2 separate regions of the Homo sapiens genome follow, and region 1 is linked to region 2. The links come from fine-mapping of genetic effects on gene expression. A gene starts in region 2. The other region holds a variant in brackets. All regions are shown on one strand. Distances are between the middles of the regions. Region 1 overlaps BMAL2 (basic helix-loop-helix ARNT like 2). Region 2 holds the start of BMAL2-AS1 (BMAL2 antisense RNA 1).

Region 1 (2,922 bases), 57 kb after region 2:
ACATGAAATCTGCCTAGGTGCCCATCCCTGGTGGATTAAAGAAAAGTGGGCTACGTATGAATCATGGAATACTACACAGCCATAAAAAAGAATGAAATCATGTCCTTTGCAGCACTGTGGATAGAGCTGGAGGCTATAATCCTAAGTGAATTGATGCAAGAACAGAAAACCAAATACCACATGTTCCCACTTATAAGTAGGAGCTAAACATGGAGCACATAAGGACATAAACACGGGAACAACAGACACTGTGGACTATTAGAGGGGGAAGGGAGGGAAGGGCGTGTGGGTTGAAAAACTATCTACTGGGTACTATGCTCACTACCTTAGTGCAATATACCCATGAAACAAACCTGCACATGTAGTCCCTGTATCTAAAATAAATGTTGAAAATTTTTAAAAAAAGAATAGTGTTTTCATGAGGATTAAAACACTTAGCACAGTATCTGGCACAGGGTTAGCGTTAAATAAATGAGTATTAGCAATTACCGTTTCAGGTGTTTGTCAAAAAAGATTCCGACCAAAACTTAATTGAATTTTTGTGGCTCCATATAAATATCCTTTTAAAGGATAGGAAGGCAAATCCCATGTTAAAATTTGCCTATGGAATCCTATATCTCATAGCTTAATATGCTCTTAGGCAAAAAAGTCATGAGACATTTTGTAGTCCCTGAAATTTCCCAATTAAGTTAAATAGATGACTATTTAATCAATTCAAAAAGTAAATATCTGCAAGAAAAATCTAGCAAAGGATCATAAGAAAACAAATGAGATATTTACCGAAGAATCACCATCTCATAAAAAATTAAAATCACACCTGGAACATCTTAAGAAACTTTCACCAAAATTAGTCAAATCAGGCTCTTGTACTATTGAAGTTTTTTTAACATCTAACCTTTATATTTTAAAATGTAATAATGAAGTTTCACAGCAAAAGTTTTATTTCCATCTCTTGTCATTTTTTTCCCACTTGATAGGCCCCAAACTACAATTTCAATAACACCATTAAAATCTTGGGCAACAAAGATAATATGTAATTACCTGATAAATTCGAAAGATGTGATGAACAAATGTAAGTAATTTTGGTTTAAAAAAATCTTATTTTTAAGATGCTTTTGAATTCAAATATTTCCCTTGACCATATATTTTATTTTTTCTGTACAGAAAATATTTAGGACATTAATTTTATAGCCATGCTTTGCATCACTTGACATTTCAAAATGATACCTTTCTTCTTTGAGTTGGGTAAGCATCCATGCTCTTCTTTGACAGAGATTTTACAACTCTTTATCCGACAGAAAAAAGATCGTCTTGAGCCAGAATACACACGTGTCCTTCCAGCGTGGAGATTACTGTGAACTTGCAAACCAGCTTTCGTGCAGAAGGGGGCGAGAGAATAGGTGGAAAAGAATATTGTCAAATAATTTTGAAATTTATCTCCTAACATTTTCTGACCATCTATTATTGAGAAAGGAAACAGTTTTTTAAAGCAATGGCATGATTGTACAGTAAACCCTGAAGTGAAATATACCCAAAAAATGTATTTGTCAAGCAATCACATTTTGATAACTTACAGACATTTGCAATTTATCTTTCTTTTTTCCTCAAATGGGGAAGAACAAAGTTAATTTAAGTGAAATGAAATAAAAATTAAATTAAAAAATGAAAAAAACCTTAACTATTACAGGAATCAATTGTTTTATATTTTACATAATTATTTGGTACTAGGCATTTTCAGAGAAGAAAAAAATACTTATACTTCCCAAACAC[A/T]ATTATACAAGGTCTTTCATACAGAAAAGACCTAATCCATATAAAAAAGAGAGTAATTGTCTTTTAGCATATAGCTAAATAATGGGAACTTCAGCAATTTTTTATCCAAATGATACTTTCTTGTAAAGATTTTATTTGCATATGAAAAATAGCAAATATGAAGCACTCATATTTTCCCCAAAGCATCTTCATATCAATGAATTTGTGTTTGTATATGTCTGTATGAATATAGGAATTTTCTATATAGCTATATATATTTATTAAGTATGATGTAAAGTTTACAAAACAATTCTCTCTTGATAAAAGCTTAGTTAGCTGTTTTAAAAACACTGTGTAGCTAAACTTTTAGGTGATCATTACATTTACATAAAATAATAAGCATGCGGAAATGGACACTTACTTTTGGCATCTATTAGCTTTTCTCTTGGTGAAATATCAAAAGAAGAAAGTTGTTCCTTTACTTTGGCAACATCTTTTGGATGTAAGAAGTCAAATAAGCTTTGTCCAGTCAAACTAGCCTATTCATAAGGTAGACATTCATTTAAAATCAGTACCATGCTTTTTCTACATTTCTTGATGCATACAATAAATGTTCTTTTTTGATTTTTGATTGATTTTTCTCAAGCTCAAAGATATGTCCACGACACTGTGTGACATGAACTTAATGTTCAAAGCAGGGTGATACTTGTAGACAGAAAAAAATACATGCGTATAGAACCATCCCTGGATATACACAAACCATATACAAACACCAATTGCTAGTATTCTGCTAAATCTTGTAACTCTTGTTAACATGTTACTTGTAAATGATTGTGATTTACTTTGAACTTTTTTTGTCCTTGTTAAAAAAAAGAGATTACATCATAGTATAATATAGAAATCACAGAATATCTGTGACTTTATCAGATATTTACCATACAGTTTAAAAAATTACCATACTATTGATAGGTAAAATCCAACCCAGAATACCTCTCACTTCCCATTCCACCACTCCCAAAAGGCACAGCATCCCCAGGTCTATGCCTTTGCTGATACAGTCCCACCCCTCAGAATTCATCACCCCTTCCCTATCCCTTGGCCACTCCAGCCAAATTGCCTTTGACTCCCTAGACTTCCGGGACTCCCTTCTCCCAGGTTGAAATGTTTCCTCCC
Region 2 (2,922 bases):
ATTCTCAATTTAACAATGAGTAACAACTTCTGGGAGGAGGGTGACTTGTTCAAGGTCCTACAGCTAGTAAGTGGTAAATCAAGAACTTAAGTCCAAAATTTTCTAACCGGAAAGCTAATACTTTCTCTACTTGTTTCTAAAAACATGTATTTAATTGATAACTATTTTTGAGCATCTGCTATGTGTCAGGTACTGTGCTGGAGTGGAGAATGCAAGCATGCGTAAAGATACAGTTCCTGTCCCTGCGGAGCTTGCAGGCCACTTGGCTCTGGTCAGGTGCAATGTGTTAAGTGCTAGGGAAGGTTGCGGTGGCAGCACATAGGAGAGGCACTCGGCTGAGTTTCTGGGGCTCAGACGCGTAAGTCCAGAGAAAGTACATCTACAGAAGCCCGAAAACAGTTTCTCAAATTTTACTGTAAATGTGAATCATTCTAGGATCTTGTTAAAATGTAGGTTCTGATTCAGGAGGTCTGGAGTGAGGCCTAAAGTTCTGCTTTTTTTTTTTTTTTTTGAGACAGAGTCTTGCTCTGTCTCCCAGCCTGCGATCACCACTCACTGCAGCCTTGACCTCCTCCCACCTTAGCCTCCCGAGTAGTTGGGACTACAGATGCGGATCACCATGCCCAGCTAAGTTTTTGTATTTTTTATAGAGACAAGGTTTTGCTGTGTTGCCAGGCTGGTCTCAGGCTCCTGGGCTGAAGCGATCCTCCCACCTTGGCCTCCCAAGGTGCTGGGATTACAGGTGTGAGCCACCGCACCTGGCCGATTCTGCCTTTCTAACAAGCTCCCGAAGAGGCTGTTGCAGCTGGTCCATGGATCACCCTGTTAGTAGTAAGGCTCTGAAGAGCAAGAAAGGGTTAGCCAGGTAGAGAGGTGTGTCGGTGGTGACAGCTTCCCCAGTAAAGATGCAGAATGGGCAAAGCCTTATGGAGAAAAGGATCAAGATCATCTTCAGGGAACTGTGGTTTCCCCAGTAATCCTGGACTGTGGGGCATGAGGTGGTGAGGTAGCTCAAGAAGGGGCTGGAGGTGAAAGTGAAGTAAATGGAAACCCATCATACAGGGCCCCATAAGCCTTGTTAAGGGGCTGTGTCTATTACTGAGGGCAGTGAGATGCCATTCACTGTTTTAAGCTGATGAGTTCCTTTATCGGATCTGTGCTTTCCAAAAAGCACACTGACTACAGTGTGGAAACTGCATTAGAACAGTGTTTTCAATGCTGTCTCCATGTCAGAATCACGTGGGGAACTTTATAAAATGCCAATGCTCAGCCACCGTCCCTAACCCCGACCCCAGACAATTCAAGAGGATCTCTAAGGCAGAAGTTCTTAAAGCATGGTCCCTGGACCAGCATCAGCAAAAGCATCAGGGAACTTGTTAGAAATGCAAATTCCCAGGCCCCCTCCCAGACTTACTGAATCAGGAACTCCGGGAGTGGGCCCAGCAGCCTGAGGTTTAAGAAGCTCCCCAAGGGCCTCAGGTACAGCTAATGTTTGAGAACCACTGGATTAGAGGGAGAAAAGTGGGGAGAGAGAGAGGATACTTGACCAATCAGAAGCAGAGAGATGATGATGTCACAGAACCCACATTGGCTCTTATTAAACTCGAGGATCAACATCATCTTGATAGAGTCCCATAGTGTCTCAAAGTGGGGAGGTTAGGATGCTGGTTAGTCATGGAGTATTTTCAGAGTGGAAGTTGATCAGTGACGTTTTGTCAGGGATTGATCCAATTTATAAACTAGGTAAGTTTCTGTGTTATTGACTGAATTGTTTTTCCCTCCAAATTCATATGTTGAAGACCTACGCCCCAATGTGATGGTATTTGGAGATCAGGCCTTTGGGAGATAATTAAGGTTAGATGAGGTTATGAGGGTGGGGCCCTCATAAATGAGATTAGTGCCCTTATAAGAAGAGGCACCAGAGAGCTTTCTCTCTCCCTCCTCCATCTCTCTCTCCCCTTCCCCTCCTGCTCCCTCTGTTCCCAATCCCTGCTTCCCAACTCCCACCATGTGAGGACACATTAAGAAGGCCACCATTGGCCAGGTGCAGTGGCTCATGCCTGTAATCCTAGCACTTTGGGAGGCTGAGGTGGGTGGATTACGAGGTCAGGAGTTCAAGACCAGCCTGGCCAACATGGTGAAACCCCATCTCTACTAAAAATACAAAAAGTAGCTGGGCGTGTTGGTGGGTGCCTATAATCCCAGCTACTTGGGAGGCTGAGGCAGGAGAATCATTTGAACCTGTGAGGCAGAGGTTACAGTGAGCTGAGATCACGCCATTGCACTCCAGACTGGGCGACAGAGCAAGACTCTGTCTTAAAAAAAAAAGAGAGAGAGAGAAAGAAAAAGAAAAAGAAAAAAAGAAGGCCACCTTCTACAAGCCAGAAAGAGAGCCCTCACCAGAAACAGACCATGCTAGCACTTGATCTTGGACTTCTATTCTCCAGAACTGTGAGAAAATAAATTTCTGTTGTTTAAGCCACCCACTCTGTGGTATTTCGTGATGGCAGCCTGAGCTAAGACACTTGTGGAAAGGTAAGTGGTCTTGCTGGGACACATGGGTCCCTGTGGAGTTAACTGTTAAAATGGTTTGTCTGTGGTCTTATCTTGGGACATGTGGGTCTGAGTGAATTGCAGCTGTAACAAATTGAGCTTATATAGTTTACGTTGCAAGTTTTCAGTTTTGAAATTGTGGCTTTTGTTTCATATTTTAGAATCCTAAACTAAGGCTGTGATATGAATTATTGAAATTCAAAACTCTTAATAGGGTTGTCAGATAAAATATAGAACACCCAGTTAAATTTGAATTTCAAGTAAACAGTAAAAACATGTTTAATATAATTATATGCCAAATAGTGCATGGAATATACTTATTCTAAAAAAAATTCATGGTTTATCTGAAATTCAAATTAAACTGGGTTC

The links. PIP is the estimated chance that this variant, and not a neighbour inherited with it, causes the effect.
Region 1: its variant is fine-mapped to the expression of BMAL2-AS1 in sun-exposed skin (GTEx, PIP above 0.99).

The regions. Positions count from the first base shown.
Region 1 is chr12:27,388,545-27,391,466 of GRCh38, reverse strand. It overlaps BMAL2 (basic helix-loop-helix ARNT like 2), which reads right to left. Exons shown (of 17, transcript NM_020183.6): 8 at 2,171-2,288; 9 at 1,228-1,371. It overlaps BMAL2-AS1 (BMAL2 antisense RNA 1), which reads left to right. Exons shown (of 4, transcript NR_109975.1): 3 at 978-1,072; 4 at 1,299-1,678. Among named protein-coding and RNA genes, the nearest start is that of BMAL2-AS1, 57 kb to the left of the region's middle. The variant A/T (reference allele first, on the strand shown) is at 1,771.
Region 2 is chr12:27,445,318-27,448,239 of GRCh38, reverse strand. It overlaps BMAL2-AS1 (BMAL2 antisense RNA 1), which reads left to right and starts at 1,606. Exons shown (of 4, transcript NR_109975.1): 1 at 1,606-1,743. SMCO2 (single-pass membrane protein with coiled-coil domains 2) reads right to left here and starts at 1,504. Exons shown (of 9, transcript NM_001395208.2): 1 at 1,415-1,504.